Linked DNA regions of Homo sapiens: region 2 is linked to region 1. Evidence: fine-mapped expression QTL. A gene starts in region 1. The other region holds a variant in brackets. All regions are shown on one strand. Distances are from middle to middle. Region 1 holds the start of LINC02235 (long intergenic non-protein coding RNA 2235). Region 2 overlaps LINC02235 (long intergenic non-protein coding RNA 2235).

Evidence for each region. PIP is the estimated chance that this variant, and not a neighbour inherited with it, causes the effect.
Region 2: its variant is fine-mapped to the expression of LINC02235 in thyroid (GTEx, PIP 0.95).

What each region holds. Positions count from the first base shown.
Region 1 is chr8:81,833,464-81,850,098 of GRCh38, reverse strand. LINC02235 (long intergenic non-protein coding RNA 2235) reads right to left here and starts at 7,480. Exons shown (of 8, transcript NR_170320.1): 1 at 7,428-7,480; 2 at 5,528-5,648; 3 at 992-1,108; 4 at 580-713. It overlaps SNX16 (sorting nexin 16), which reads left to right and starts at 7,914. Exons shown (of 8, transcript NM_152836.3): 1 at 7,914-7,977; 2 at 10,017-10,487. The coding sequence starts at 10,113. RefSeq lists enhancers at 7,230-7,499, 7,931-7,980, 7,908-8,840 and silencers at 8,311-8,360, 16,039-16,239.
Region 2 is chr8:81,881,638-81,898,272 of GRCh38, reverse strand. The region is part of intron 7 of LINC02235 (long intergenic non-protein coding RNA 2235); the gene reads right to left. Among named protein-coding and RNA genes, the nearest start is that of LINC02235, 47 kb to the right of the region's middle. RefSeq lists enhancers at 1-467, 2,018-2,792 and a silencer at 14,317-14,483. The variant G/A (reference allele first, on the strand shown) is at 7,748.

The DNA of each region.
Region 1 (16,635 bases):
TGCTTCAGTTTTTGCCCATTCAGTATGATATTGGCTGTGGGTTTGTCATAAATAGCTCTTATTATTTTGAGATACATCCCCATCAATACCTAGTTTATTAAGAGTGTTTAGCATGAAGGGCTGTTGAATTTTGTCAAATGCTTTTTCTGCATCTATTGAGATAATCATGTGGCTTTAGTCATTGCTTCTGTTTATATGATGGATTATGTTTATTGATTTGCATATGTTGAACCAGCCTTGCATCCCAGGGATGAAGCTGACTTGATTGTGGTAGATAAGCTTTTTGATGTGCTGCTGGATTCTGTTTGCCAATATTTTATTGAGGATTTTTGCATTGATGTTCATCAGGGATATTGGTCTCATTTTTCAACTGCCACAGAGAAGGAGAGGTCGTAAAGAGAGTAGCCTCTGATATCCAGTCAGCATGAATAAACCTTAGGTTCCCTGCTTCCAGACCCTATTTTCCTGCCTCATATTCCCCCTGAGAGATGTGATTCCCATAAATCTTTATGGGAAGCAGAGGGATTGATGGTCTTTCTTCTGTAGCTGCTTCATGCTAACTTGGGGTGCAATCCCTACCTATTGCTGATCATGGAAATTTTTCCCTGCTCTATCCAGTGGAGGCAGGGTAGTTTATTGATCGCTGGGGGTGCTATCTTCATTTGGAACTGGCTGGCAATGTTGTTGCATGATCATATGAAGCTCAATGGTCTCTAGGTGAGAGGAAATGAATTTGGTTAAAAGATCTAATGGGAACTTCAGGGGGTGGATACCTATGCTATCAGGAATGTTTGTTATAGGGAGAAATTAAAACATTCTGCTTAATTGCTACAAAGGGAGTGATTCCAAACATTTGAAAAAAGAAAAACTGCAAAAATATATAAAAATATGGCTATTATTATCCAGCCAAATATATAAAAATATGGCTATTATTATCCAACCTACAATAACTATGCAACAAAAACACCAAGGAAAGTTGGTAGGCATTTACTTATCTTTTGGCTGTCTTCTAAACAGGCACTTCAGGTCTTCCACAGGTTCACAGGTGTAGTGGCTGAAGGAAACTTCAGGTTCCAGGTCTGAGGCTTCAGGTATCACAGACTTGATCCTTGAAAGATGTATCCAATTATTTAAATCCTAATACTTTGACCATGGAAAGCATGGCCAGCACCACTGAAAATGTTCCCTTCCATTTGGGCTGTAGTTGTTGAGCAGGCGATCCCTCCTTCCAAGTTTTAACAAGTATCTTATCTCTTGGCCTGATTTTGGGATGCTGGTTAGCTCCTGGTATGGGGAACCTTTGAGTTCCAAACTTTTGTGAAAGCCTGCTGAAATTGTCCATTAACTAGGTATTTCACTAAACCAGCTGTTTCTGGATCAGTAATTAGATCATTAGTTAAGAATGGCCTTCCGTATAACATTTCATATGGGTTTATGTTAATTTTTGCTCTAGAGGTATTGCAGATCCTTAAGAGGGCTATAGTCAGTAAGCTGACCCAAATTTCTGATGTTTCCTAACATAGCTTACCTAATGCTTGTTCTAGAGTTTGGTTAACCCTTTCTACTTTCCCGAAGAATTGAGTCCTCCATGCTGAATGTAAATAGTATTTGATTCTGAAGGTCTTAGCGACCCCTTTAGTTATTTGGGAGATAAAGGATGGGCCATTATCTCTTTGGAGACTCTGAGGTTACCCAAACTAAGGGACTATTTATTTGTAAGAGAAACTTTATAACCTCAATAGCCTTCTCTGTTCTGGTAGGATAAGCTTCGACCCAACCAGTAAAGGTATCTATCAGGACTAACAAAAACTTGTATCCTCTACAAGCGGGCATTTGGGTGAAGTCTAATTGACAGTGTTCCCCTGGGTAAGTTCCTCTCCTCTGGACTGATTCTATTAGAGGAAGCATTTTGTTTCCTGGACTGTTAAGTGCACACAGTGAGCAGGATTGACAGACCTGCTTAACCACTGAATCTAAGTTAGGCCCAATGAAGAGCCTGTTAACCATGGCCAGGGTGGCATCTCCACTGGGCTGTTTGAGGGAGATTTAGTTTGATTCCATATACCACCCGGATACTTATTTTTGTCCCCCTTGTTCCTTTATTAACTGTTCTTCCTATAGCGTGTATTCAGGATCCATTCAGGAATCATAGAAAGGAAGCAGTGCTAGGATCTGTTGGGATTGCACCCTGAGGGATACGGCTTTAGCTTCTCTATCAGCCCTTCTGTTCCCTTGTGCTATAGGAAGTAAGTCCCTTTGATGCCCCCTACAATGGATTATAGCTACAGCCTTTGGCAGGTGTATTGCTTCCAACAGCTGAAGAATTTCAGGCCCGTGCTTTATTGGGGAGTATTTGCTATTTAGTAGTCCCTTTTCTTTCCAGATTGTAGCATGAGCATGAAACATAAGGAACGCATATTTAGAATCTGGATAGATGTTAAGCTTTTTCCTTTGTCTCAACATTAGTGCTCAGGTAAGAACAATGATTTCAGTATTTTGTGCTGATGTGCCAGGGGGCAGTGGCTGGGCTTCAATAATGGTGTTGTGATTTACCATTGCATATCCAACTCAGCACTCCCCATTTGACACAAAACTACTGCCATCTGTGAACCAGTTATCTTCAGAATCTGGGAGAGGCTAATCTTTTAAATTAGGCCAGCTAATATATGTGTGTACAATGACCTGCTCACAGGAATCATCAGTTATTGGGCCTGTGGGTAGCAATGAAGCTGGATTCAAGGTGTTACAAGTTTTAAGGGTTACATCTGGATTGTCTAGCAGCATGGCCTGGCATATGTTTAACCTTTCCTCCATCATCCACATGTGTCCTTTTATCTCTAAGACTGGCTTTACCTGATGGGGGGTTAGAACTTCCAGTGGTTGGCCCAGGGTGATTTTAGTGGCTTCCTCCACAAACATAGCAGTGGCTATTGCCTGCAGGAAACTTGGTCATCTCGAGGCTGCTCCATCCAACTTCCTTGAAAAGCAGGCAGTTGGTCTGGGTTCTGATCCTAATTTCTAGGCTAGCACTCCCACAGCTACGCCCTTCTCAGCTACATACAAGAAGGGCTTAGTTATGTCTGGGATGCCAAGAGCAGGAGCCTGGTAAGGGCCTATTTTAGCTTGGTGAAGGCTTCTCATTTCTGGGGTCAATTCCGTTAGCTCATTTTCAGGCCTCCTTGTTGCTTCATATACGAGCTTTGCTACAAGCCCCAAATTTGGTACCAATATTCTGCAAAACCCAGCCATTCCCCAGAAAGAACAAAGCTGCGCTTGGTGGCTGTGGGGCAACCACATATGGCTTGCACTCATTCTGGGGATATTTGTCGGGTTCCCGGTGTTAAGACATACCCTAAATATTGGATCCATTGGAGGGTAATCTGAGCCTTCTTTTTGGACACTTCACATCCTCTGTCAGCCAGGAAATTCAACGTTTTTATAGTATTTTGGTCAGAAGCCTCCTGGGTTGGGCTACACACAAGAAGTTCAACCACATACTGGAATATACTTCCATTCTCCAATTGCAGATCCCTCAGATCCCTCTCTACAGATCAGGCTAAGAAATCAGGGCTATCCTGAAAGCCCTGAGGGAGTACTGTCCAAATGTATTGTTTTTTTTTTTTCTGGTATTAGGATTTTCCCATTCAAAGGCAAAAAGGTATTGGGATTCTGGGGCCAGAGGAATAGAGATGAAAGCATCTTTTAGGTCTAGGAGAAACATTTTGCATCCCCTGGCACCTAAGCCAGGAGGGTATATGGATCCACCACCAATGGGTGGACGGGGATAACAGTGTGATAAATTATTCTGAAATCCTGTACTAGCAGGTATTCCCTCAAGGGCTTTAGAATGGTTAAGATGGGGGTGTTTCAGGGAGAATTGCAGGTTTTTAAGAGCTCATGGGTAAGCAATATCTCAACTATGGATGCCAGGCCTTTTCTTGCTTCCAGCTTAAATGGGTATTGTTTTCAATTGGGGCAATAGCTGGGGTCTTTAAACTGGTATTTTGACTGGCACTGCTGTTTTAGCTTTCCCTGGTGATATGGTTTGGCTGTGTCTCCACCCAAATCTCATCTTGAATTCCCACATGTTATAGGAGACACCCAGTGGGAGGTAATTGAATCATAGGGGAAGGTCTTTCCCTTGCTGTTCTCATGATCATGAACAAGCCTCACAAGATCTGAGAGTTTTATAAGAGGGAGTTTGCCTGCACAACCTCTCTCTTTGCCTACTACCATCCACGTAGGATGTGACTTGCTCCTCCCTTGCCTTCCACCATGATTGGAGGCCTCCCCAGCTATATGGAACTGCAAGTCCATTAAATTTCTTTCTTTTGTAAATCATCCAGTCTCGAGTTTGTCCTTATCAGCAGTGTGAAAATGGACTAATACACCTGGCTTCCCAGCATAACATGCTAGCAGGTTAACCTGTTTATTAATGTGGTCTGGGATATTGTCTGTATTTTTGACTATTAGCAATTTTACTGGGTAATGCTTAAATTTGTAGTAGTGCCCCTATTTTAATGATAATATCGCTTCCCAACAGGTGGACAAGGCAGCTTGGAACTACTAAAGATTTATGTTGGAACATTTGTTTCTCAAACTGACAAAGGAGAAGTAAAGAATCTCGTTTGTGGCTTTCCTTCCATTCCCGGAACACTCTTAGACTGGGAGGAAAGTTTTCCTGCATAAGCAGTAAGGACAGAGTAATTCGCCCCTGTATTGGAAAAAAAAAACTGAATTTGGGTACCCATGACATCTAGTTACCCAGGGCTCTGCAATAGTAATTATGATGTTCCTGGACAGGGGCAGTGAGGAAGACTCTAGGCCCCTTCAGTCTTCATCTAATTCCTCCTTTCACACTGCTAGACTTTTGCCTAACTGAGCCCCTTGGTGGGAGCGGGTGCAGTCAATCCTCTAGTGCCAGAGACCCCTCTTAGTACATTAGACGTCTCTGACCTTAGATTGGTGCCACCACCACTTTGGAATGATTCCAACCACCACTGATGACCCACTGTGAGTTTTCCCTCTTGTCCCTGGATGAAGGTCTCTACTTCTAGAATTAACTTTCAGACAAACCTTTGGATTTTTTTTCCTATCACACTTAAAACAATTCTTTAACTTTCTAAATTTGGACAAGATTAAATTGTACATAGATTCCCTTTCATGAATCCCCTCCATGAGTTACACAGACCACAATATGCCCAAACTCTGTGACTTATCCTTAGCCAGTCAAGTAGGGGGACGGAAGAATTTAACATAAGGAAAGAAGGCTTAAGCCACCTGAAACATGTGTGAATTTTCCCTGGACAGGCTGCCACTGCCAATTGCATCACTCATAGGCATCAGGGACTACAACTGGAAAAGACAGAAAAGAGTCCTTCCCCTTTCTGGGCAAGGCAGCTATCCCCATTCACTCCTGGGCCTTCAGTTAACACCAGAGAGTGGCCCCAGTTGCCTTCAGTTACCAAGGAGCTACTAGGAAATGGCCACTGAAAGACTGAAAAAGAAAAGAACTCAGGTTCCTCACCTGAACCAGGTGGTGGCAGTCAGGTGCTTCCACATGGACCTTTTAGTTTCACCAGAGAGTGGCCCTGGCCAGAAACCTGCAGTTGCCTCCATGCTTAGGCACTGTCCATCAAGGATCCCAGCTTGGAAAGGAAAAGGGAGAGAGAGAAAGAGGAAAAAGAAAAATACAAATCCCAAACTTTGGGCTTACCTTCTGGCTGGCTCACCAAAATATGTTACCAATTGAGGGTAGTTGTCCAGGTTCTTGGTGTTTTGAACGAAGAATTGGACAGAACACACAAACAAGGCATGGAAAGCAGAGATTTATTTTAAATGAAAGTATACTCCACAGAAGGAAAACAGACTCAGTCAAGGGGTTCAAGAGCATCAGCTACAGAATTTTCTGGGGCTTAAATACCCTCTAGAGGGTTCCCATTGGCCTATGCCCAGTCTGATTGGTTGTGGAAGGAGACCAATCAGAGTGAAAAGTAGGCCCTCAACCAGTCTGATTGGTTGAGGGAGGGGCTCTATCAGAGGTTCTTTCATTTTTCAACTGCCACCCAAAGAAAGGAGGGTTGCAACTGCCACGCAGCAACTGCCACGCAGAAAAAAGAGGGGTTGAAAATGGAGTCGCCTCTGATATCAGTCAGCATGAATCAGCCTTAGGTCCCCTGTTTCCAGACCCTATTCTCCTACCTAACATTGTTTCTACAGAATTCTATTTTTATTTCATTCACACTAAAAGGGCAGAATCTCTTAAACCAAAACCATCATCATGTCACAAACCAGACTATTTTCCAACCTTCATTTCAAAATGACCACTATCACCTTTTCTCACTCTTAGTCGGGCAGTAGAATAGGGTCCGGAGGCAGGGAACCTAAGGCCCATTCACGCTGACTTCCTAGAACTAAATCAAAAGGAAAACTCCAACTTTCCAAGCCCAAGTAACAAAAAGACCAGAGGCTATTCCCTTTGCAACCCCCTGCCCAACCTTCTAGGCCCTTGGTATCTGGGCCTAGTCTTCATTTCCATAGGAGTACAACTTTGTAACTTAACTTTAGCCTCTGATTGGTTGCAGGCTACTCCTTAATTTACAGAGGGTGTAAACCAAGTAACCAATGGGAAATCTCTAGCGGATATTTAAACTCCAGAAAATCCTGTAACCAGGGCTCTTGAGCCACTGGCTGGAGGCCATTCCCACTCTGTGGAGTGTACAGTCATTTCAATCTCTGCTTTCCTTGCTTCATTCTTTCCTTGCTTTCTTTGTGCGTTTTGTCCAATTCTTTGTTAAAAAAACCAAGAACCTGGATGACTTGTAGTCAAGACCCTCCATGGGTAACATTGGGACTATACAAAAGCCTTAGAAATCGTGGAATGATTTTTCAACCACATTATCTGATTCTAATGATGAACAGACCTGTAGACCGGTCTGAATCTTGGGATTTGCCTATCAAAAAACTCGGCTTTCCCTACTGCACAGGTCTTCAGAAGCGCATGTCTAACAAGGCTAATATTCCATCATCGGGATCAAATTGCTCACCGGATAGTAAAAAGACACTACAGAATTTCAGGGGTTCTCTGCCAATGAGAACTTCTGAATTATGTAGAACGGATCAGCTACTAAGCAGTGTTCTATCTTCCTACTCTTCTAATCGATTGTCATCCCTTAAAGCGCTGCTAATTCTAGAAAACAATCTATAACCTGTTAGAATCAGCGCAAGCTGGTGATGACTACAAGTCCCATGATGCAAAGTATGAGCACGGACCAATGTTGGTCGCAGTTCCTTCTGGGAATTGTAGTCTTCTCCTGTTTGGCAAACTAGGTATTGTAGCCTCCATTTCTCAGAAGTTCAGTTGGAAAACTAAAGATAGTGCAGAGAATGTCGATTTCCTGCCACAAGATTACATTTATCTTCGCTACCTGAGCGCCCAGCCGATCAACTCCAGTCGCTCCTCCGGTGGGCGGGCGCCCATGCCGTGACATCACTTCCGGCAGAGATGTGTGTGTGACGCTCTCTCTCTCTCTCTCTCGCTCTCGCTCTCTCCCTCGCTCGTTTTCTTTCTCTTTCTCTCTCTCTCTCTCTCTCTCTCTCTCTCTCTCTCTCTCTCTCTCTCTCTCTCTCTGTCTCTCGCTCTTGCCCTCTCTCTCTCTCTTTCTCTCTGTCTCTGTCTCTCTCTCTCTCTCTCTCTCTCTCTCTCTCTCTCTCTCCCTCCCTCCCTCCCTCCCTCCCTCTCTCTCTCTCTCTCTCCCCCCCCCCCCCCCCCCGCCCAGTTCGGCCCCTCCTTCCACACAGCAGGGATCTTGGGCCCGGGCAGAGACTGGCTGAGGCGGGGAGCAGCTGCTTTTGGGGCGGGGGTGTCACGTGAGGCTTCTCGCTGCTGAGGGAGGAGGCGAAAAGCTGCGGTTAAGGAGAGTCCGGTTTAACCGTCACCGGGAAGCGCGCTCGTTCGGGATCGCCGAGGGGGCTGAGGTAAAGACTGGGTCATTACCTCAGGACAGGCGGTCGCTGTCCCGGGTTCTCGTACGGGTGACACCTGCAACCTTGATGTCTGGCGGGCGGCAAGGGGCTCCGCGGGAGAGTGGAGAGGCGCCGCAGGAAGCCCAGCCACCTTCAGGCCACCGCCGACCCCACTGTGCGTCTGGGAGGCGCTGGGCGCGCACCGGTCAGCGGAGGCGGGAGAGTCTGTGATCCCAGGGAGCTGCGGGTCTCGCCGCCTGCAGTGCGGAAGACCCGTGACCGGCGCAGACCCCGGCCTTACCTTCCGAGGGTCGAACTGTGCCTGGTATTTGCCTCTTTCCTCCCGCCCACGGGGTTGCTCAGAGTCGGGCCACCTCACCTGAGGTTTTCCAGAGTGAGAATGAACTGAGCGTCCTGGGAGCAACTCCGCATCAGGGTAGAGGCGAAGACGCTCCTAATGAGCACAGCACGTTTTTTTGTTTGTTTGTTTGCTTGTTTTGTTTTTTTAACGCTTGGGTAGCGCTCACATCTTCGGACGTCAGTGGTTGTGTTGATATGTATTGATATGCGACCTCCCCCCAGCCAGGCGGCCTCAGGTAGTAGAGTGGCAAAGGCCAGGTAGATCCCTCGGACCTTGAGAAGGTTGAGATTTCAGACTTACTTGTTTTTGGGGAGGCCGTCAGGCGGAACCGAGGAGCGGTGAATCAGCAGCTAAAGTTTCATGAATCTTTGATAATGGGGAAATGTTGCCGAGAGCCACTTGAGTTAAAAATCTTTTTTTTTTTTTTTTTTGAGACGGAGTTTTCCTCTTGTAGCCCAGGCTGGAGTGCAATGGCACGATCTCGGCAAACTGCAACCTCCGCCTCCCGGGTTCAAGCGATTCTCCTGCCTCAGCCTCCCAAGTAGCTGGGATTATAGGCCTGCGCCACCATGCCCGGCTAATTTTTGTATTTTTAGTAGAGACGGGGTTTCACCATGTTGGCCAGGCTAGCCTCGAACTCCTGACCTCAGGCGATCCACCCGCTTCATCCTCCCAAAGTGCTGGGATTACAGGCGTGAGCCACAGCGCCCAGCCCAGAGTTAAAAATCTTATTTCAGCATCTTTCCAAGTCCAGGTGACTCATTTCTTACCTTTCCCACCAGTAGAGTTTCGTATGAAAAGTTGGGCAGTTATTGTTGTGTGTAGTCTTGTCATTTTGTTGGTCTGTAGTTGTTACAGTTTCTTATGAGTTTATTATTTAACAAAGTAATAGTAAACCATTTCTTCTTTGTGTTATGATACTATTCTGACACAAGATATACTGGTCCGTTTGATAACAGATTCTTGAGTGTAAGTTATAAAGATTTAAATACCCTCAGTTTATCGTAGAGCAGAATTAGTGATGACCTGTAAGCTGTGAAGAACGGTTACAATTTTCACTATTTAATTTTGTTGCATATAAGTTCAGTGTTCACTGGGTTTTATTTGAGTAACTTGACCAAGTGTGTATTTTTAATCCTGGGTTCTATAGAATTATACTATGTAGCATCAAAGCATCTGGTTCATTGTTACTACTCTGTGTAAATCTTTATAGTTTCACTAATTAAATTGAAAGGTAATGTGAATAGATTTCCTCCCTTTCTGATTAAATCCAGAGGTAATGTAAATAGTTTTCTTCCTTTTCTTTTTTCTCTCTTGTACTGAATGTAGTACTGTCAAGATGATAAGCATGGAATAAAGCTTCAGAAGGGTCTTTACCAATCTTTCTCCTACCAACTTTTACATACATGAAATCAGGTTAAAATGAACTTTACAGAAATACTTCACAAGGGAATAAAGTAGAGGAAAAAGGGATAACATGTAACATGGAGTCAAGGAAAAAGAGTGTGAAGTAGTTTTGCTCTCTCTATCTTGCAAATAGGAGTCCTTAAAGACAACTGGGAGAAGGGGTTTGAGGTATGTTTTCATTCCAAATAAAATAATAGTGTCATAAAATTGAAAAGAATACTTTTCTTTTGAATCCTGCTGCACATTAAAGACTAACCTTTTAATATGTCCTTTTCATTTTTAGATAGTGAATTCCTAAGAAGAAAATAATGGATTGCATATTAGTTGTTCTCTAAGTGGACTCAACAGTGTGCAAGCTTGTTGGAAAAGCCAAAAGAAGATGGCAACTCCTTATGTCCCAGTTCCTATGCCCATAGGAAACTCTGCTTCCAGTTTTACAACAAACAGAAATCAAAGAAGTTCTTCTTTTGGCAGTGTCTCAACAAGCTCAAATTCTTCTAAGGGCCAGTTAGAAGACTCAAATATGGGTAATTTTAAACAGACAAGTGTTCCTGATCAAATGGATAATACTTCATCTGTCTGTAGCAGTCCCCTCATTAGGACTAAATTTACAGGTACAGCTTCTTCCATTGAGTATTCTACTAGACCAAGAGACACTGAAGAACAAAATCCGGAAACAGTGAATTGGGAAGATAGACCATCTACACCTACTATACTGGGTTATGAAGTGATGGAAGAAAGAGCTAAATTTACTGTAAGTATTGACTTCTGCTGTATAACACTACAAAGTGAAAGATTGGCTAATCTCTGTGTTCAAACCAGTGTTAAATTAATGTAAACTTGTACTTATAATTTCTTGAATATGAAATTCTAATGGTTTTTACACCACTGAATTCTATCATGTTGTAGTAAACTTTTGCTTTACCTTAATAAATTTTCACAAACCAGACACACCTATGTAACTATTAATAGCACATAAATCAAGGAAAAGAACGTTACTAGAATCTTAAATGCTCTAGGTTCTCTGCCAGTCAGGACCCATTCACCCAATACTTTTGTATAGCCTAGATTAATTTTGCCTATTTTTGTACTTTATCTAAATGGAATTATATACTCTTTTTGCATCTGGTCTCTTTTCTTTAGCCTTGCCAAATTACATGCCCAGCTTTAAAAGATATTGGTGAACAGTGTTTCAGAATGGTTGTACTGATTTATACTCCTAAAAGCAGCATATAAGAGTTCCAGTTGATCCATAGCTTCCTAACATGTGATATTTTAACATTTTTATCATTTCAGCTGTTCTCATGGGTACAGAGTAATATCACATTGGTTGTGGTTTTAATTTGAATTTTCTTAATGACTAATTGAATTTAAAATTTTTTTGGGCTGTTTGGATATTCTCTTGTGAAATATCTGTGCATGATTTTTGTTCATTTTTCTTTTGGGAAGTCTCCCTTTTGATTTGTAGTTTTCTGTGCACTTTGGATATAATTTTTTTTTCAGATACATGTATTATGACTATCCTCTCACTCTGTGGTTTGCCTTTTCAATTCCTTAATAATACATTTGATAAACAAAAGTTCTTAATTTTAATTTGGCTTGATTTATTACTTTTTTTAATGGCTAGCACTTTTTGAAATCTTTGCCTACTCCAAGGCTACAAAGATACTGTCCTATGTTTTCTTCTAAAATCTTTATTGTTGGACCTTTCACATTTAGATTCGTAAACCACCAGAATTGATTTTTGTCCATGGTGTGAGGTGAGGGTCAAGTCTTTTTTTTTTTTTTTTTCCAGATGGGACCAATTAATCAGGCTTTTATTTGAAAGACCACTCTCTCTCCTCTTCATTTTCAGTGTTGTCTGTGTCATAAATCATGTGACCATAAATGCATGGGTCTGCTTCTGTGTTCTATTTTTTCATCCTTTACTAATTTCACACTGTCTTAATTAATAAAGTCTTATAATAGGTCTTGATATGTAGCAGTGTATGTACTTTAGCTTTTTTCTTCAGGATGGCCTTGGCTATTCTTCACCCTTTGCATTGAGATTTTGTTAGATCTATAGATTAATCTGGGGAGAACTGACATCTTTACTGAGTTTTCAAATCTATGAACCTAATCCATTTACTTAAGTCATTTTTTTCTAGTAATGTTTTGTTGTTTTTGGTGCAGGGTTCTTACATCTGTTGGTTAGATTTATTTCAGGATATGGATGTTGTTTGATGTTCTTGTGAGAGACATCTATTTTTGTTTTCTATTTACTGCTATTTTATATAATTTGTCCTTTTATGTTTACATATCCAGCAACCTTGCTCAACTCTCTTATTAACTCAAAAGGTTTACTTTTTTGGTAAGACTTTGTTCTTTTAGTAAAGTTTAATGTTTACTTCAATGTTTCATGCTGTAAATTTATGACAGGATGGGAGGACCTCCAAGGAAAAATTGTTGAGATAATTTATGAAGAGGCAGTCTTTAAAATTATCATAAGACTGTGATATAGGAAATCTTCAGGGAACTCTGTCTCTCTCTCTCTTTTTAGAAAATTTTTAGAAAATATAAACTGATGGCCAATTTCCTGAATTAAGAAATAGGCATTTATTGAGTTGATACTATGGTCTGAATGTGCGTTCCTTCAAAATTCATATGTTGAAACCTAACCTTCAAGGTGATGGTATTAAGAGATGGAGCTTTTGGAAGCCAGTAGGTCATGGGAGCAGAGCCCCCATAAATAGGATTAGGACCCTTAAAAAGAGGCCCCAGAGAGCTTTTTGTCCTTTACACATCTGAGGACATAGCTATAAGGCACCATCTATAAACCAGAAAGTAGGCCCTCTCCAGATACCAAATCTGTTACTGTCTTGATCTTGGACTTCTCAGACTTTAGAACTTTGAGAAATAAATTTCTTTGTTTACAAGCTACCAAATTTATGGTATTTTGTTATAACAGACCTAACAGACTAAGACAGATGATATGTGTGAAGATGCAAGTATTTGGCCAAATACAAGGTGGTGTTATGTAAAGCATTTCAAGAGACTGGAGAGGAGGAAGTAAATGACAGATATGAAATTAGTCATATTCATTTATTTATTAACTCAACATTTTTTTAATTACCTATTATGCCTCAGGCACTGTTCTGGGTAATAGTGGTACAGCAATTTGAATGAAAGCATGATAAGTAAGTAAATAATAAGACGCCTGATATGTCACATGGTGATAAGCACTATAGAGAGAAATAAAACAGAGAAGGAAGACAGGGAGTTTCCCCAAATCTGGGGTTGGGATTTAAATAGCACTATCAGTCATGGCCTCACAAAAAGATGTTAGTGCTAACAGGGAATGAGCCATGAGAATGTGTTTTCAACACAGATGGGACAACTACAAAGATCCTTGTGGCTGACAGCAGAGTAAGCTGTGGGAGGTGTAGGGAATGAGATGACAGGCAGGGAAGTGTGGCACACAGATCACATAGGGAAGGAGGCACTGTGAAGACTTTGGATTTTACTCTGCATGAGATGAGAATCTTTTAAAAGGTTTTTAAAAGAAGAGTCATGTGATCTGACAATGTTTTAAAAAGTTCATTCTGGCTACTGAATTGAGACTGGTTTGGTCGAGATGGGGGACAGTCAAAGCAGGAAGCAGTTAGTAGGTTCTTTTAGTAATCCAAGGGAAACATGATGGTAGTGTGGACTGGGGTGGTGGAGGAAGTCCTGAGAAGTGATCAGGTTCTGGATTTGTTTTAAAAGTAGAACCGGCAATATTTCCTAATGATTTGGAAGTGGAGTGTGGGAGAAAGAGAGGTCAAAGGTGACTTCAAAAGTTTTGGCCTAAACAATGGGAAGATATGGCTGCCATTTAATTAAATGACAGGTTTTGAGGGATGATCAAAATTTGTTTTTAGACATGCTAGATTTGATATGTCTGTTCAACATTGAAATGGAGATGTTACATGTGTTAATGTGTACACATACATATGTAATGTGTGTGTATACATATAAGCTGAGTTTAAGGGAGAGGTATAAGCTGGAGATACAAACTTGAGAATCTTAGGTTTGTAAAATAATTTTTTCTAGATATATTCTTTTGAATTGCTCTCATAACTGAAAAAAGTATTAGGACTCACTCTTGATCTGATAATATATAAGGTGTCTAGTCTTTAAAAAGGTTGTTTAAAGACAAAAATTGACTAGGATGTGTAGTGAGTAGAATTGGGAAGGAAGCATGCTATGGACCTCTTTGATTGGTAATGTTTCATTTCTTGCTCACTGATATGGTTTGGCTGTGTCCCCACCTAAATCTCATTTAATTCCCATGTGTTGTGGGAGAGACCTGGTGGGAGGTAATTAGGAAGTATAGCTAACTTGCTTTTGATTTTACAAGCTGATAGGCAAAAGGGACTTGCCTTGTCTCAGATGAGGGACAAGGGGCAATCATTGGGGCAGGTCTTTCCCATACTGTTCTTGTGATAGTGAATAAGTCTCACAAGATCTGATGGTTTTAAAAGCGGGAGTCTCCCTGCACAAGCTGTCCTCTCTTGTCTGCCAGCATGTGAGACTTGCCTTTCACCTTCCATCATGATTGTGAGGCCTCCCAGCCATGTGGAACTGTAAGTCAAATAAACCTCTTTCTACAGTCCAGGCTGAGGTAGTCTTAGTTGGAGATGAGGAACTTGTTGGGAAATGGAGAAAAGGTAATTCTTGTTAGGTTTAGCAAAGAGATTGGCGGCATTTTGCCCCTGCCCTAGAGATTTCTGGAACTTTGAACTTGAGAGGGATGATTTAGGGTATCTGGCGGAAGAAATTTCTAAGCAGCAAAGCATTCAAGAGGTGACTTGGGTGCTACTAAAGGCATTCAGTTTTATAACGGAAGCACAGCATAAAAGTTTGGAAAATTTGCAGCCTGACAGTGCAATAGAAAGTAAAATCCCATTTTCTGAGGAGAAATTCAAGCTGGCTGTAGAAATTTGCATAAGTAATAAGGAACCCAATGTTAATCCCCAAGACAATGGGGAAGATGTCTCCAGGGCATATGAGAGGTCTTCATGGCAGCCCCTCCCATCACAAGCCCAAAGGCGTAGGAGGAAAACGTGGTTTTGTGGACTGGGCCCAGGGTCCCTGTGCTATGTGCAGCCTAGAGGCTTGGTGCCCTGCGTCCCAGCCGCTCCAGCCATGGCTGACAGGGGCCAACATAGAGCTCAGGCCGTGACTTCAGAGGGTGTAATCCCCAAGCCTTGGCAGCTGCCACATAGTGTTGAGCCTGTGAGTGCACAGAAGTCAAGAATTGAGGTTTGGGAACCTCTGCCTAGATTTCAGATGATGTATGGAAATGCCTGGATGCCCAGGCAGAAGTTTGCTGTAGGGGCAGGGCCCTCATGGAAAACTGCTGCTAGGGCTGTGTGGAAGGGAAATGTGGGGTCAGAGCCCCATACAGAGTCCCTACTGGGGCACTGTCTAGTGGAGCTGTGAGAGGAGGGCCATCATCCTCCAGGTCCTAGAAAGGTAGATCCACCAACAGCTTGCACCATGCACCTGGAAAAGCCACGGCTCATAAAAGCAGCCAGGAAGGAGGAGGGCTATATCCTGCAAAGCCCCAGGGGTGGAGCTGCCCAAGGCCATGGGAGCCCACCTCTTGCATGAGCAGGACCCAGACATGAACTAGACATGGAGTCAAAGGAAAGTATTTTGGAGCTTTAAGATTTGACTACCCTGCTGGATTTCAGACTTGCATTGGGCCTGTAGCCCCTTTGTTTTAGCCAATTTCTCCCATTTGGGATGCTTGTATTTACCCAATGCCTGTACCCTCATTGTATCTAGTAAGTAACTAGCTTGCTTTTGATTTTATAGGCTCATAGACGGAAGGGACTTCTTGTCTCGTATAAGAATTTGGACTGTGGACTTTTGAGTTAATGCTGAAATGAGTTAAGTCTTTGGGGGACTGTCTGGAAGGCACTATTAGTTTTGAAATGTGAGGACATGAGATTTGGGAGGGGCCAGGGGTGGAATGATATGGTTTGAATGTGTCCCCACCCAAATCTCATCTTGAATTCCCACATGTTGTGGGAGGGACCCAGTGGGAGGTAATTGAACAATGGGGGCAGGTCTTTCCCATGCTGTTCTTGTGATAGTGGGTAAGTCTCATGATATCTGATGGTTTTAAAAATGGGAATGTCCTTGCACAAGCTCTCTTCTTTTGTCTGCTGCCATGTGAGATGTGCCTTCACTTTCCACCATGATTATAAGGCCTCCCTAGCCACATGGAACTGTAAGTCCAGTAAACCTCTTTCTTTTGTAAATTGCCCAGTCTCAGGTATGTCTCTCAGCAGCATGAAATGGACTAATACACTCATAGTACTTTAGGTGTGTTCATTTTGTGAAATTTGTCAAGTTGTACGCTTATGAATTGCACACTTTTTGTATATATTTTATAATTCAAAAACAACTACATTAAAATAAAAACAGTACAAGGAAATACATATGAAACTTCAAATAAAGAGTAGAAACAACAACAGTTATTGGAATATAGAGAAGGGAATGATCAGTACTGTTCATAAAGTTTTCATTGAAAGCACTACTTAAACAAGTAGAAAGCACTTTCTAGAAGAGATAGAACACAAAAGTCGTATTTTATCTTGCTAGAGAAACAGGGGTATTCAGTGGCCACAGTGGAGAGTAGCTTATTTAGAAGGGGGAGTTCATTTTCTAAGACAAGAAAATAAAGTCAGTATGTATTATTTGTAGATATTCCTAATTATTATATGAAGTGCACTTTTATCCTGTATCAGTCATTCATACTCAAAAGTTTTAAAGTCGACTTCTCTCTTCTTTTAATGAGTGACTCCTAAAAAGAATTTCTTTTGTATTCCCATTGCAACTTTTTTAGATCAGGACCTTCTGCTGACTTTAAA
Region 2 (16,635 bases), 48 kb before region 1:
TCCTTCTCCTAGCTTATCCTGGCTCAAAAGCTCCCCCACTGAGCACCTTGTGACCCCCCGCCCCTGCCCGCCAGAGAACAACCCTCTTTGACTGTAATTTTCCGCTACCTAACCCAAATCCTATAAAACGGCCCCACCCCATCTCCCTTTGCTGACTCTCTTTTCAGACTCAACCCACCTGCACCCAGATGAAATAAACAGCCTTGTTGCTCACACAAAGCCTGTTTGGTGGTCTCTTCACAAGGACGTGCATGACAGAATTCATCTACAGTTTGAGAAATGTTGGGAAAATAGTAAAATTATAATGACAATGGAATCAGATGGCTGCTGCTGGAGACCATGCTTTAGAAAATATGATTTTAAAGTAGCTGAAGATGATTAAATAGCATAAAGACTAAGGGTAAAAGAAGGAGGATTTCAAGGACATCAAGGAGATACTTGGTGGCAAGTTGACACCTTCTACCCTGGAAGAGTAATGATTTATTTTGCCTGCTATAAACATATTAAGATATAAGTTGCAATTTCTTTTTCTTTTCTTTTCTTTTTTTTTTTTTTTTTTTTTTTGAGACAGAGTCTCACTCTGTTGCCCAGGCTGGAGTGTAGTGGCACAATCTTGGCTCACTGCAACCTCCACCTCCTGGGTTCAAGCAATTCTCTTACCTCAGCCTCCTGAGTAGCTGAGATTACAGGCACATGCCACCATGCCTGGCTAATTTTGGCATTTTTAGTAGAGACAGGGTTTTGGCATGTTGGTCAGACTGGTCTTAAACTCCTGGCTTCAGGTGATCCGCCTGCCTTGGCCTCCCAAAGTGCTGGGATTACAGGCATAAGCCACTGTGCCCAGCTGCCATTCCTTTCTATAGAGCCTTAGACTATATTATTATCCAAATGTTTAAAGAGTATTTGCTCTGTCAACATGGAATCCCACACAAAGTCACATCAGACCAATGGAAGCACAGCAGTAGACACATGAGCTTGAGATTCCATGGTCCTCTCACATACAGAATTACCCAGAATCTGCCAGCCTGCTAAAGCAAAGAAAAGCCTACTCAAGAAGGTATGGCTAAGGCACCAGCTCAGAGACAATACCCTATAAGAATGGGCCACTGTCCTCCAGAATGCAAATGCACATACACACACATATACACATACACACATATACATAGATAATGGCTGTGTCCTCAAGACATAAATGCATGGGTCTGAAAACCAAGAGATGGAAGAAAAGATCATCTCACTTATATCACTCCCTGTGAAACACCACATGGGGAATTTTTGTTTCCTGCCTCACAGTGCTGGGCTCTGCAGGTTGAGAAGTCCTGACTACCAAAGAAAGAATGCTTCTACTAGGGGAAACAGCAAGAGTCCCCGTGAACCTTAATCTATGGCTGTCAGTCTAGCACTTTGGACTTCACATAACAAGGGAGCAGCAGAAAAGAAAAATCACCTGGTTGGTAGAGGTAATTGAATTTGATCATCAGGAGGAGATAAAGCTACCAATATACAACAGAGGCAGGGAGAAACATATTTGACACATAAGTGAGCCACTTAATGTCACTTGTTATTCCCTTGCCCAATTTTGATGGTAAATGGATAAATACAGAAGCCATGCCTGAAAATGGCATAGAGACCAGGAACAGTACACTCCCTAAGAAGTACTATGACAGGATAACATAGAAGGAGCATAAAAAATAAGAAGATAAGAATATTAGATGAAAGTCATGCAGAAGTCGAAACAGGCTTTCTCTAAACTCAGAGTATATCTATTTCTCCTATAACTGTTAACAAAAAGAGTCAAACTGTGTAAAATATTTGAAAAGATTTATTCTGAGCCAAATATGAGTGACCATGGCCCATGACACAGCCCTCACGAGGTCCTGAGAACATAAGCCCAAGGTGGTCGGGCACAGCTTGATTTCACACATTTTAGAGAGGCATGAGACATCAATCAAAATACATTTAAGAAATACATTGTTTTGGTCCAGAAAGGTGGGTCAACTGAAAACGGGGTTGGGGGTAGGGGGAGGCTTCCAGGCTATAGGTAAATTTAAACATTTTCTAGTTGATAATTAGCTGAGTTAGTCTAAAGACCTGGGATCAGTAGAAAGGAAATGTTGAGGTTAAGATGAAAGATTGTGGCGATCAAGGTTCTTTTGAAGTCTTACAATGGCTGCCCTTAGAGACAATAGATGACAGGTGTTTCCTATTCAGATCTTTAAGAGGTGCTAGACTTTTAGTTAATCTCTTTAGGATTGGGAGGGCCTGGAAGAAAAAGATCTAGCTATGTTAACAGATTCTTTACAGATGCAAATTTTCCCCCACAAAGGACAGCTTTGCAGGGCCATTTCGAGATACCGCAAAGAAATATGTTTTGGGATAAAAATTTTTAATTTTCTTTCTTGTCTCATTATATTATGCCAAAGTCAGGTTGGAAAGTAAGTCATGATATATAGAGTTAAATATAACCCATCTGATAAGAATTTATGTTTTGTAGGGCATGACTCCCCAGACCCCTTAGATAGGAATTTGGGTAAAACAAAAAAAAATCAGCTCTTAGTCCTCATAACCTTCACCAGATTCCCCAAGGAGTATGATCTATTATCATTGAAAAAAAGATTACATTATAAAGAATGCAAATTAGTATTCATTGCAAATTTACTATGTGTCAGTTTTCTTATATTATTTCACTTTAATGCTCATTAAAAACCCTGTAAATTAAGTCTTAATAGCCACAGATTAGGAGATTGAGTTTTAAGAAATGAATAATGGAAAGACATTTTCACTACAATATATCCACATGGAAAATTAATATGAGCTTCAGACAGATAGAATAAAACCATGGAAACTGAAAACAGAACTGAGGTCAGGCATGATGGTTCACACATGTAATACCAGAAATTTGGGAGGCTGAAGTGGAAGGATCACTTGAGACCAGGTGTTTAAGACCAGCCTGGACAATATTGCAAGACCCTATCTCTAAAAAATAAATAAAAATAAAAATAAGAAAACAGAACTGAGATGACCAAATATAAGTACTCAGAAGTAGCACTGTGCAATGTAACTTTCTAAGATGATGGGGGAATGTTTAGTATCTGTGCTGTCCAATATTCTATATATTTGTTCTGTTCAATACTGTAGCAACTAGCTACAAGAAGCTACTGAGCAATTAAAATGTGGCCAATGCAACTGAGGAATTAAATTTCTACTTTTATTTAACTTTAATTATTTAAATTTGAATTTAAATTGCCGCTTGTATTACATGGTACAACTCTACAGGATCCCTGGAATTTTTCTTGTCTCTCTAATAAAATATACCCAGAGGTTAAGATGCTAATTACAAGAAAAGCAATGCAACTCTGAATTTCCAGAACAAGATTTCTAGTATACTGATCACACTTTTTCTTCTCCCTCAAGTAATGACAAAATTGGACACATTGCATGCCAAGCTGTAATTCTTAAATGGAGCAAATGTATTATATACTTCGATGAAAGACTTTTAGCAGTCGCTGCTAAGTACAGAGACACACTATTGCACAGAAGCATTCAGAGCTACTTTTCATTTTTCAGTCTGAGTAAATTCTTTCCTTCTCAAAAAATGTAGTGATACGTTAATGTAAACAGCTGGTTTCTATTTTTTGTTTGTATGCCTGTTTTTGTTTAGAGGGACTAGTGTTTAGTTTTTCACAAACTCATTTTTAGATGTCTCCAGTTTATGGTCTACTGTGTGTGCAATCTCCTTCTTCAGGAATTTAGACCAAAAACATTTTTTCTGATTAGGTTGCTCATCATTATTTTCTGAGCTTCCAATTAAGTATCATCTGGCAATCTGGCAATTTCATGAAACATTACAGCAAGCTGTATTTCGATTTTTGCCGTTTATCTTTTAACTCTCATTAAGGAGAATCTATTTTGAGTCCACTGCTGAATTAAGACCTCCAAATATTTCATAAGATTTGATACCTTGCCAAATCCACAAAACCTAAATTCTGCTTAAAAGGATTTTTTAAATTGAGTCCTATGACAGATCATTTACCAAATTGAGTACATTTAACTAATTTTCTGGCTGCTCTCATTCAATCTAATAGATCACATTGAAATCCTTAAATTCTGCCCATTTTACAACCCCCACAAATATTTCAGAGTTAACACTATTTTTCTTCAAGGGAAGCATGAGGTAAGAAAAATATACCACATAGAATGTTAACAATGTACCTATCTCTATCTCCACATACATATTCACTTGTCTCACCTCCTTTACTGAGATGTAGGACATATGGATTTTCAAAGACTAGGTATAATAAAACTCTGTCGTATAAATGGGCCAAACTTTCATTGTACAGTTACTGTGACTTTCAAGAAACTGGCTAGAATCCAGAAGCCACGCAAAAAGAATCTAAAAATTATTAAACTCTCTAAAGCCAACAATTCTGGGTTTTTATCTTGATTCTGTTGTTGAACATTAGAAAATTATTTAATGTATCTGTACCTCTGTTTCTTCATCTATAGAGTGGAAATAATAATTATAATACCTTCTTCATAATGTTGCTTTAATAGTTAAATGAGTTAATACTTTCAAAGCACTTCAAATAGTGTCTGGCATACAAGCAAACCAGCATAAGTTAACATAAATATGATAGAATCATGGTATACTGCTACTAAATGTAACTTTAGATGTTGTTCATTTTATGTGTAAATTTAACACTTGTATGATGTTAAAAATACTTTTTATACCTGCTTTTGGGATTTTAGTATTTAAATTCTGAAAACAGCAAGAAACTTCTAAATATTTATTTATGATTTGATAATAAGCAGAATTTACTTAAAAGAGAGCTGCCATCCAATATAGAAATTGGTATTGTGACATTTCTGACACTGATATAAATATGAACTTTATGTTTCTAATGGAAACTATGCCTGCAATTCTCATATGATAACAGGTATGGGCAGTGATGTACCTACAGTTACCATCTTCTTGATTTTGAGCAAATTTTCTTATTCAAGCAATATTACTTTATCACTTCTATTTCAGACATTCTGCTAAGTATGGGCAAAAAATATTAATGAAACTGCTTTTATAGTATTTACTGTAGCAGAGGATAAGACATTAAAGAAGTCACACAAATGTGAAATTTCAATTGATATATATGAATTTGAACATATTAATTTAGGAATTTGACCTAGTCAGGAATTTTCTGTAAAGAAGAGATAAATAATAAGACTGAGTCCTAAAAGGTGAGAGAAAATTAACTAAATAGATGAAAGAAAACCATTCCTAAGAAAATAGCATGAGCAAAATCTCATGGAATGAAGTGAAGAGAGTAAGGTAAATGAGATCTTTAACAAAGCTGTCTAGTAGGTAGAGAACAGATCATGCAGAGATTACAAGGCCATGTTAAGGAGTTTTGCCCACATTCTATGACCAATGGAAAGCCATTGAAGGATTCAAACCAAGATGTGGAGAAGAGAAAAACATGACCCAGTTGACTTTTAAACAAGATCAGCCAGGCTGCAATGAGAAGATAAACTGATAGAGGAGTCAAGAGTTAACTATTAAATAAATCAGTTGGGAAGCTATTTCAACATGATGCTTCATCTAACAGGTGAGTGGTGGAGATGGAGAGAAGTATAAATTCAAGAGATACTTAGGTATCTTGATGATTCACCAGATGTGGAAGATGAGAAAGAAGGAGACATCAAAGATGATTTCTAAGTTTCCAACTTGTATAACTGAACCAGATTTGGGAAAAGAGGACCATTAATTTTTTTTTCTTGGTCATGTTGCATTTGAAATGCCTTTAAAATATTCAAGTGAATATATTAAATTGGCAGCAGGAAAATGTCTGATTATAAACATAATAAAGTAACTGGTACCAGACTATTCCTCCCATGGTAAATGACTGTAAAATTGGACAACACACATAGCGATATTGTCAGACATTAGTCAAAAGGCAGCACAAAACTCTGATCCCTGAGAAAGAGGAAACACACAAAGTAAGCCCCATAATTGGCCTGAATTTCTACAGGGGAAATCTTTCCAGACTATAATGCAGGGAGGCAAGTTAAGCAGAGCACAGCAGTATCATTGAGCTGAGGAAGCAAAAATCAATGTTTAAAGTTGCTAAGAAGGCTGAAGTATGTGGAACTGGCTACTGCAGACAAGGAAGCCATGAAGACAAAGACCTCACAAATCTATATAGGGGTCCTCTTACTACATTGGCTAAATTCTAAAGCTGTGCATGCACATGGTGAGACTCAGGAAGATGGTAGAGAACAACTGCTAGGTATTTGTGAAATAAAATGTATATCTTTGTGGTTTCAAATTGGTTGAAGAAATAGAAATTCTGACCAGCAACCATGGAAAGATCTTGCTAAAAACCCCAGGCGCTCAGTTGAGACTTCTTACAAAGGCCATAGCTTAGAAGCAGAACTACTCTAGCTATAGAAGAAGATCTACCCTAGACCTTTAATAAAGTTGATATAGCTTAAAAACAGGTTTCAAAGAATTATGATGATCCACCAGTAAATTTCCTGCCTGCCAGCTCAAAATCCAAACTTTTAAAGAAAAAAAATCATACTTTTATAAATATGTTTTACAATATCTAGTACACTATCAAAAATTACTAGATGTGAAGAAATAAGACCATAGCAGCAGAGGCTACTTTAAGATATCCCAGCAGCTAAACCTAAGCCCCAATGGTAAAGAAAAAGAATAAAAGCACAATGCACCCAAGACAGAGAAAAAAAAAAAAAAAAAAAGTAACAATAAGCATAAAAAGAAGAAGAGAAAGAACAAATAGAACATCAAAACTACTAGATCAGACAGCATCCAAAAATAAAGAACCTATGATTTAAATACCGTGAGATTTCTGTGAGTCAAAAATTACTAGATATTTTTCTTTAAAAAATTAAATAGTTTAATTGAAAGAATGGCCACTATTGATAACCCAATTAGTGTCTTTAAAGATCCAGAGGAAAACATATCTCAAAAGAAAAAAAAATTTATGGAGAAGTTAATCATAAGGAAAAAGGAAAAAATAGATCTAAAATATCTAATAAATAAATCATGAAATTTCAGGGAAAAAGTAACAAAGAAAAAATTAAAGACATTATAATGAAAAAAATTTGTGATTTTAAAAAATGTTTTGAATCTGTACGTTTAAGGTTCTTACTGAGGTTCAGGAAGATTTTACAAGACATACAGTAGGGCATACATGGCAATAATGGAATTTGAAGGTGTAGTATGCTGAATAATGACCCACAAAGATGGCAATTCCTAATCCCTGGCACCTGTGAATGTTACTTTGAATAGTAAAGTCTGCAGGTGTGATTAAATTGAGAATCTTGATGTGAGATTTATCCTGAATTATCTGGATAGGGCCTAAATGCCATCATATGTGTGTATAAGAGAGCATCAGATAGATACTACACACAGAAGAAAAGGCCAAGTGACCACAGAGACAGAGATTGGAGTGATGTCCAGTCTCAAGGAATGCCAGCAGCCATCAGAGCCTGGAAAACAAGATTTATTCTGAAGGCTATTCATTGCTCGTCTATTTTAATAATCCCCTAAACATTTAAAGCAAATGTCTGTAGCACATTCAGGAGCTGGCAGAGGCAAAGGGTGGAATCCCCCCTAGAGCCTCTAGAGGGAGTGCACCTCTGCCAACACCTTGATTTCGGCCAGGTGATACAGATTTCAGCCTTCTATTCTCCAGAACTGTAAGAGAATAATTTTTTTGTTGTTTAA[G/A]CCACCCTATTTATGATAATTTATTACAGCAACCACAGAACACTAACACAGAAGGTAAAGAGAAAATTTTACAAGTTTTCAAGGAGCAAAAACAAGTTACTCAAGATTGAAAATAAATGAAAAAATATAATTCCATAAGAATGAAGAAAACAGGAGAGTAGAGAACAACAAACAAGAGCTGTCAAAATTATCATGAAAGATATGAAACATAATCATGGTACAATCTACATGTAGTTCAGTGGTCAAAATATTCTAAAGATTGATAGTGAAAACCAAAAATAGTGATAAAACTACATTGAGAGGCAGTAGGAAGGGGAAGTCATGTAAATAAGATCCATCCTTAACTACAATAACAGAAGCCAATAGATACCTAAAATTAATAAAACAAAAGCTAGCAGCAGAAGCAGATTCTTTAGAAATAGTGGAAATTATACAGATGCAAAGAAGCGCGTGCAGCTCTCCTCTAAAGGGCAGGATCTGGGGTGGAGAAGAGCGGGGTAGAAAGCTACTGTGTTTGCTATAAGTTTTTAAACTGATTTTTCCTTACGTACATGTACTGGATTGATTAAAATTCAAACATAAGAACACAATTACCACAAATAACAAGAAGCTACTGTCTTCTGGCTCGTCACAGTAATTGAGGCCTCCCTTCTCTTTCTCGATTCTAGGGGGAAATAAGCCAATGGGTCATTAGCTCATTGTGACAGCCTTAAGAGACAGGAACCTGCAAGATCCTGACAGAGAGAAGTCTTTGGAAAGGCAGTAGGGGAAATGCTTCGAAAGGTCTGAGCTCTATTCACCAACTGGGCTGCTACAATTGGTATTACGCATTCATCAGAATGGACCTTTCTCCAACTGTCCCAGGACTGAAAAGATATCGATCCTGGCTACTCATGGCCTAGGAGGAACCACACTGGAGCTGCCCAAGCTCCAGGGATAGAATATTCTATCACCGAGGGTTTTCTGCTCTGAAGCCAAAAGTGGAAGAATGAGACCTGAAAAACTATTCAGTCTTAGCTTTTCCTATTATGGGCTTGTGCCCACTAAATAGGATGTTTTTGTTTGTTTGTTCAAGTGCCCAATACTAAAGGGGGTATCGATTTATTTGAACTAGGCAAGTAGACTAAAGTGAAGTGCAGTAAGTGATGGTTAATCAATAGAGTCAGCCTTCAGAAGCTATTCTGCAACACTCCAGAGTAACTGTTTGCTATTCACAAAGTCTCACTGGAGAGTTTCTTCAGCTTCTGACCATCACAGCCTGCTTGGCACTTCCCAGATCTCTCTTACAGTTATCATTCTGTCAGTCTTTTAAACATGGCCATTCAAACCCAGTCCATAGACCTGCAGATAAATATCAAACTGCTGGCTTTATTCTCAGCTCCTTCTCTTTCAAATGCAACACACACATACATACATACACACATACATATACACACACATACGTACATCAGTTAGTACAAACAAATACTAGAGAGGTGTTTTCCTCATTACCGCTTTTGGAGTTCAGCTTGATGAATTCAAAATATATGTGGCATGAGCAAATGAGAAATAAAGAGACAAAGAAGTGCCCTGTCAAGTACAGTAGCAAATATACATAGGGCTTACTACGTGTCAGGCACTTGGGACCTATAAGTAACCTATATTAACTTATTTAATTATCACAATTGCATGAGATAGTTATTTTCATAATCCTCATTTAAGACATAGAAATCAAGAGATAAAAGATTTAACTTGCTCAAGGTTGCACAGGTAGTAAGCAACAGAAGAGGGATTTGAACTCAGGCGATCTGGCTCTAGAGTCTGTGTTCTTCACCACAATACAATAATGCCACTCAAGCCATATTTAGGTTCTTAACGTGATAGACTGTGCACGCTTGGTTTCTCTCTAGTTGTTCCTAGCACAATGTGATTATACCATTGGCTCACAAATAAAAGTGTCTAATAAAATCTGCTCAGGGGCATGGGTAATTTCCATAACATCAAGCTACCTTGAAGGTTTTCAAGGATTGGTGTCATCCAGTGTGATGTCATTATCAAGGACAAGAATATTGTTACAGCTAGCTGGTGATGCTGCCTCTCCCTTTCTGGAAAAATACGAGTTAATCTGAGGCCCAACAGACCTTTGCCTGGTTTGCCTGTGGAATAATCCAATTCTGACTCAAGGGCAGGTTTTGGTTGAAAAATACAGTTATGGCTTTGTGGAATTAGGGAAATGATAACGTTTCTTGATTTGTTGACTACTAGAGTCATGAGAAGTGAAAAAGTACGGTGAATCTGAGATTACATGCTCAGAGAAGATGGTACAGTGTTTATGACTAAGCCTGACAGAAAACTGGGGAAGATGGGAAAACTTGTAAACAATGATGAGTAAATCTGCTTTGGCTATACTGAGACTGTCAACAAAGACATCTGTTAGCTTAGTAGCTCTGTGAGCTATCAGTCAAGTGTTTATTGACTGCTTCTCGGGAAGATGCTCAGTGGTAAACATTCTATGAAGACAATCACATTATATAAATGCCATCAAACATGTTGGAGAGATTTCCAGCTAACCTCGCCTGAGTACATCTGAGCAGTTCATTAACATCCGGAGAAACATCCAGATCTGAAACTCGTTATTTTAAATCTTTCCAAAGTGAGACACTCAATAAAAAGATCCCAAAATAAAATATGTTTTCTAGTATTTTGATAAATCAACAGTGCTGTGTTTTTCACAACCATCTGATTCTAGCCAGGATTTTAATGCAGCAGTTTGAGCAAACTTGGGAGCAATAATTTATTTCATTTTCTTGAGAATGCACATTGATTTCCTACATAGAAGCTCCGTAGTTCATTTGATTATTTCTAAGTAATCAGGAGCACCATTTTAAACTAGACTACCCTTTTTTCATAGTCTAGTCTAAACTCTCTTTAGGATGCAAAGATTTAATTTCTATTAGTAAGAAAACAATCACTTGTATTTTATATGCATAAATAAAAAAATGTCTCTCAAATATTGGTTATATTATAGGCTAATGTCTCCATTTATAGAATAATTTACTGCATATACTACAGTTACATACTTTATGCAATAAGGTATTGATTTTCAAACTGCTTTTCCAATGCCCAGAGTTCTAGAGTATTGAGCCTTGTTGGGTGGAAAAAAAGGAGAGAACTAAGTGGCCAAGAAAATTGGACTCTGGGTCCACCAGCATCATTCTAATCAATTTTTCAATCTATTCCTAAGTTGCAGTTTTACATATGATATTATTTGGCAAAAATACTTTCTGGCTAAAAATATATAAACCACCACTAATGGAATTTTGTTATAAAAAATTGAAAACTCATTTCCAGTCTTCACTCTTTACAAAAGATTATTATGTTTAGTGGTTTGCAATATGCTTCAATTATTCTCAGCTAATGGTTTATGTAATGTAATATTAAGTAAAATCTCAACTGTAATCAAGAATGACAAAATATTTGAGTCACAATTTAAGATAATATACTCTCAATCTGAAAAAAAGATAAATATTTAGATACTTTTTTCTCAAATAAGTATATTACCTTTCACAATAATTATCAAAATGGGGGGGAGGTTCTTTTTTTTTTAACACCTATCAACAATCATTCTTAGTTACTTGCACTTAAATTGACTATTTCTCTCTAAAATATTCTACTATCTCCACTAGTTTATGTTTCTATTCTTCCACATGAATAAAAATGAAATTATATAATATGCCTGAAGTTCAATAATTTAATTTTACATTAATCCGTTTGCAGTATTCCTAAATTTATTTGAAGTGTTATGTTATCATACAGAAAATTTTTCCACCTTTATAATGAAAACTATTTCAATAATTTTATTGATTCTTCACAATCTATTTCAAGTTATATAGGTAAGAAATATTCAAAACCTCCTAATACAATTTCCTCATAAATGTCAGTGTGTGACCAAGTAGAAAGTACATATACATGAGAATCATTTTGTGCAAAATTAAGTTACAGATTCTCTATTATTCTTCACCATCTTCTTAAATTAAGACAAACTAATAAATTCATATTACTGAATGGAGACTGAAATTATTTTACCTAACACACTTGTTTATTGTTTAGCATAAAAAAGGTAAAGGCCCTACAAAGAGAAATTACTTCCTATTTAATAGTAATATTGTGACCAAAACAAAGTCTTCTATCTAAAGGCCTTTCAACGACATCATCTTGGAAATCAATATTATAAGCAATAGTATGTACATATAGGTATATATGTATAATAAGGAATTGTAGCTGCATGTCTAAATAGGCTTCCTTGAATTCCTCCCCAAGAAATTAAAACAATAATTAAAACACATAGTACACATTCAATTTACAAGTTTTTACAAGATTCTAAAAATAAGTTGTCATTAACATTCAAATTAAAAATAACAAGCATTAAGGCAGTAAATGGTATATAGGAACTAAGGTTGCTTATGCCATGCAAATTTTCCCATTTGTGGAAGGTCTTTCAGTTGGGACAAAATGAAGAGAGAGACAAACAGCTTCTTGGCTTCCCTTTGCCACTGGCTGCACAAGGCACTAGCTCTTTCCTGTGGCACTCCTGGATCTCTTAACTTTCCCAGGGTTTTGGTTATAGGAGTCATTTCTTTTCTTTTATTTTAGAGATAAGTTATCACTATGTTGCCCAGGCTAGCTTCGAGCTCCTCGGCTCAAGTGATCCTCCTGACTCAGCCTCCCGAGTAGCTGGGACCATAGGCATATGCCACTGCAACCAGCTTTTTTATGTAGCAGTCATTTCTAGCTTTCAGAAAATGTGCATCTGCATCATGGGTGCATTCTCATTTGGGTACTTGACTCTCCCATTCCATCCCAAAACCTATGAGAACAAATTTCTTTGTATGATACCCATTTTGGTCACTCTAACAGCCATATATTTTCCCAATTTAAATAAATATGTTGTCCGGGCACAGTGGCTTACACCTGTAATCCCAGTACTTTGGGAGGCCGAGGCAGGCGGATTAGTTGAGGTCTGGAGTTCGAGACCAGCCTGGCTGATATGGTGATACCCCACTTCTACTAAAAATACAAAAATTACCCAGGTGGGGTGGCACACGCCCGTAATTCCAGCTACTCAGGAGGCTGAGGCAGGAAAATCCTTTGAACCTGGAGGGCAGAGGTTGCAGTGAGCCAAGATTGCGCCACTGAACTCCAGCCTGGGCGACACAGTGAGACTCGGTGTCAAAAAATAAATAAATATGTTTATGTTTATGTGTGTTTCTGTCACCATAGCTAGATAGAATTTTTTCAACAGACAAGTGGACAATTAGAAAGTCTAATTTAGTAAATAGACAAGATAGCATACACAAAATTCACCTGGCGCTGGGGGCGGAAGACATTAGGGATAATCACTTGGAGACCAGTAAAGAAAGACATATCTTCAAAAGCAAATAAAAGTGATGTTGAATCTGAAAAATGTGTGTTCACAATTGAAGAAAACATGTATTTTCAAAGACATTAGAGACCAGTGTCTAAGATGAAGAACTTCTGAACACTTCAAGAAATGGAAAATCATTCAGAGGTACTCAAAAGCCTATTTGACTACCCATCAAGAGATAGTGACTGAACCTGAATAAAGAGGTAAAAATGTTAATGAGTAAAAATCATCAATCTTTGTGAGCACATGGTGAAACGACCACATTTATATAGCTACCTGGTAGTGTATAAATTAGTAAATTTTGTAAAAAACAAAACTTATGAAATATTTCCTATATACAACAGAATGTATATAATGCATATATAATATTTAGAGTAATAAAACATTGTATCTACCAAAACGAGTGGGCTAGATGATCCATATTTTTGAATGAAATATCCCCTCTGTACACTATTTAAAACAACAGAAAAAAATCTTGTTCCTATTACCAACTCATATGCGAGGCCATAGACAATAATGCCAACCTAGGATTGAGTAAGTATCAGTGTATAAAGTGAAATCCCTATAAGGGACTCTGGTTGGGAATTCAAGTGCATATGTCTAACTATACCATAGTCTATATGTGGTCAATACATTGACCAATTTTCTGTTGTTTAAAGCTAAAAGCTAAGTATGACACAAAGTAGTGACGATTTGTTTATCATAACCCAACAATTAATACTTGTCTTACAAAAAGAATTTTCAATCATATAAACTTCAGTAAAATATGTTTCTAAATAAGTTCAAAAGCAAATATGAGTAACATTTCATTATTTATCTCATTTAATTTTTTTAATTTTTTTTTTCGCCTCTAAGAACCCATGTTTATGAGGTCCCAGAATGGAATTTAAAATTTAACATTTAAATTTAAAGAATTTAAAATTTAACATTTAAATTTAGAGAATTTAAAATTCACCTGCTTTTAAGTTCTAGGAGAGATTATCCAACAATACGATGAGTCTGGAAGGTGTGTTAGTTTAAACCCTAAGAAAATCTAAGATGGGATTAAACATGCAAGAGGTTCTTTGGGGGGAAATGCCTACGAGGGATGAGGGGAAGGGAGACAATGAAGGAGAGATGCAAGTCTGGTGCTTATTTGGTAGAACTGGGTAAGAAGAGTCTCAGGTTGCAGCCTCTTATTTCCAAGAGAGGATTGACAAGGCCAATGTGGGACCTCATAATGGGCCCATTAGAGGAGTCTGCACGAATGGACTAGCACAGTCCCTAAGCAGTGCTCAGTCACTGACTGGGAGTAGCCCACAAGTAGCAAAGCTTCTGAGTAATTACAGAGTTGGATCGAGAGAGGCAGAAATTGGGGCAGTCAGTCAATTATGTTCCCTGCTGCAGAAGATGCAAGCAGTGCATTTTCCTGGCTGCCACAGGAGAAACGGCATGTGTTATTACCTAGCTAGTTCTCTTCTCCTTTTGGCAGCTGAACTCCTTTCAAAAGATTATGCTTTTTACTGCTCCAAGCAAATATATAAGATTTACTCTTATAAAGGTGGGTAAAGAGGTCAGCATTTGTTTTTGAGGGAGGAAATACCTAGTACATGAGGCCAAGGTCTTTGTAACCAAAATAAGAATTGAATTTGGGCAACAGACTTAACACCAATAGTGACTGAGGATTTTTCCAAAGTAGCTGTGATATATGGCTTCAGTTTTGAGTTGGTGATGTATAGAAATTTATATCAAGCTTATCTAGAAGTTTGCAATTGTGCAATTTTGTTGTTTTTTGTTTTGTTTTGTTCCTCTGCCCTGGCTTGAAAGGCTTTAAGTTTTAGGTTCCATGGTATTTTTTCATTTGGTGGTAACCACAGCCTATGGAAGCTCTTTCTTCAAGGACAGTGCCATATACACTAAGACTAAACTGGATAATCACCGTAAGAAATGTGGGGTTGAGAGCTTCATCAAATGGTTGATCTATAGCAGACTTGGGCTGATTTAGGATACAAGATAGTGCTGTTTCAGCTTCGACCATTCAGGTGCAGCTTCCTAAACAGGTGTGGCTGAGGCAAAGATTCAAATGTAAGAAACAGTCTTTTTATACCTAGGTCTATTAAACATTAGGAGGCAGAACAACATTTGCTAGTATTATGTGGAAAGGATTTAGCAATGCTGAATCTGAGTTTTACATATACTACACTGTACTCATAAAGTTCTAGGTTTGCGTTATCAGTGTCAGACGTAGATGAACAGTACAAAAGAGACATACAAAAATAAAAGGCTCTGAATATGGGATGGGAGAGGGTGTTCTCAAATAAGTTTTGCTCTCTGGAGCTTCCACCATTAAAAATTTCTAAACTTTGAAAAACAGCAGCAGTGTCTCAAATGCTACAATCTGGGAAAGGAGACAGCTCAACAAGGTAAATTGTTTCCCCCATGTACATGCTAAAATTAATCTCTTGCTAATTCCTCCCCATTGAGTTTACAAATTCTGGATAACTAGCATAAAGTGGCTAGCATTATAGGTAAACCAAGAATATTTTCTCAGCCTGAGCTCCTTCACCCAAATACCATTGAGCCTATGCTGTGGTATTTGGCAGCAATATTTAATTAGACTAGATCCCGGGTCCTAGATTCTGGGAACATTATTTGCCTTGCATTCTGGGACTGAAGATTGGCTCATTTCAAAATGTGCTGGGTATGGGCCTAGGGCTGTGACCATCTGGTGTGTCCTATTTATCATTTGGACTCTTTAAAGTGTAGTTCGCCAATCATTGGGCATTAAGCTAATAGAACTTCTGAGGCCCTGAAGGAGCTACACCCATTTCAGTAACAGATAGCCCAGGTTGCAGCTTTTAAAAGAACTCCAACCTTACCAAGCACTTAGAACCCCTCTAGCTGAGACTGAGTAGAATATTAAGCTAAAAAGAATGGATTTCTTTAGCATCTTACAACACAAGGGCAAGAGAATTTGATTTTTGGACTTTATTTCCTTCACTCTTCTTCTTAAATTTGAATTTATGAGCCAGATTTTTTTCTGCTTGCTCCTACAGATCTACTCTATACCCTGCTCTGTGCCCCAGAGGCTGCATAGTCTCCCTTCCTCTGACTTCCCGCTGGATTCAGCCAGTGGAAAGCACCAATAGGATAGGAAGGAAAGTAGGTCAGGGTATTTTTTCCCCTTGGTTCCTTCTCTGCTGGTTTACCAGGAGTTGGTGGCATCCCTCTATTTAAGGCATCACTTTCCATATAACTACATTGTTTAGATTCCAAAAATCTTTTCCTCCCCATGCTTCTTCAGGCCTAAGGTGGTAACAGGCACTGTCTATTGATAACTCAAGAGCGATGGCCATCCTTGTTGGCTTCCCTACACTGTGTCCACATCAGTGTAAACATTCCCTTTGTTAAATTCAACTGCCCAGTTTGAGTGTACCATCTGCTTCCTACTATGACCTGGTGGATACAACTTGAAAGAGAAATTGAGTTTAAAACTTCTCCCTAG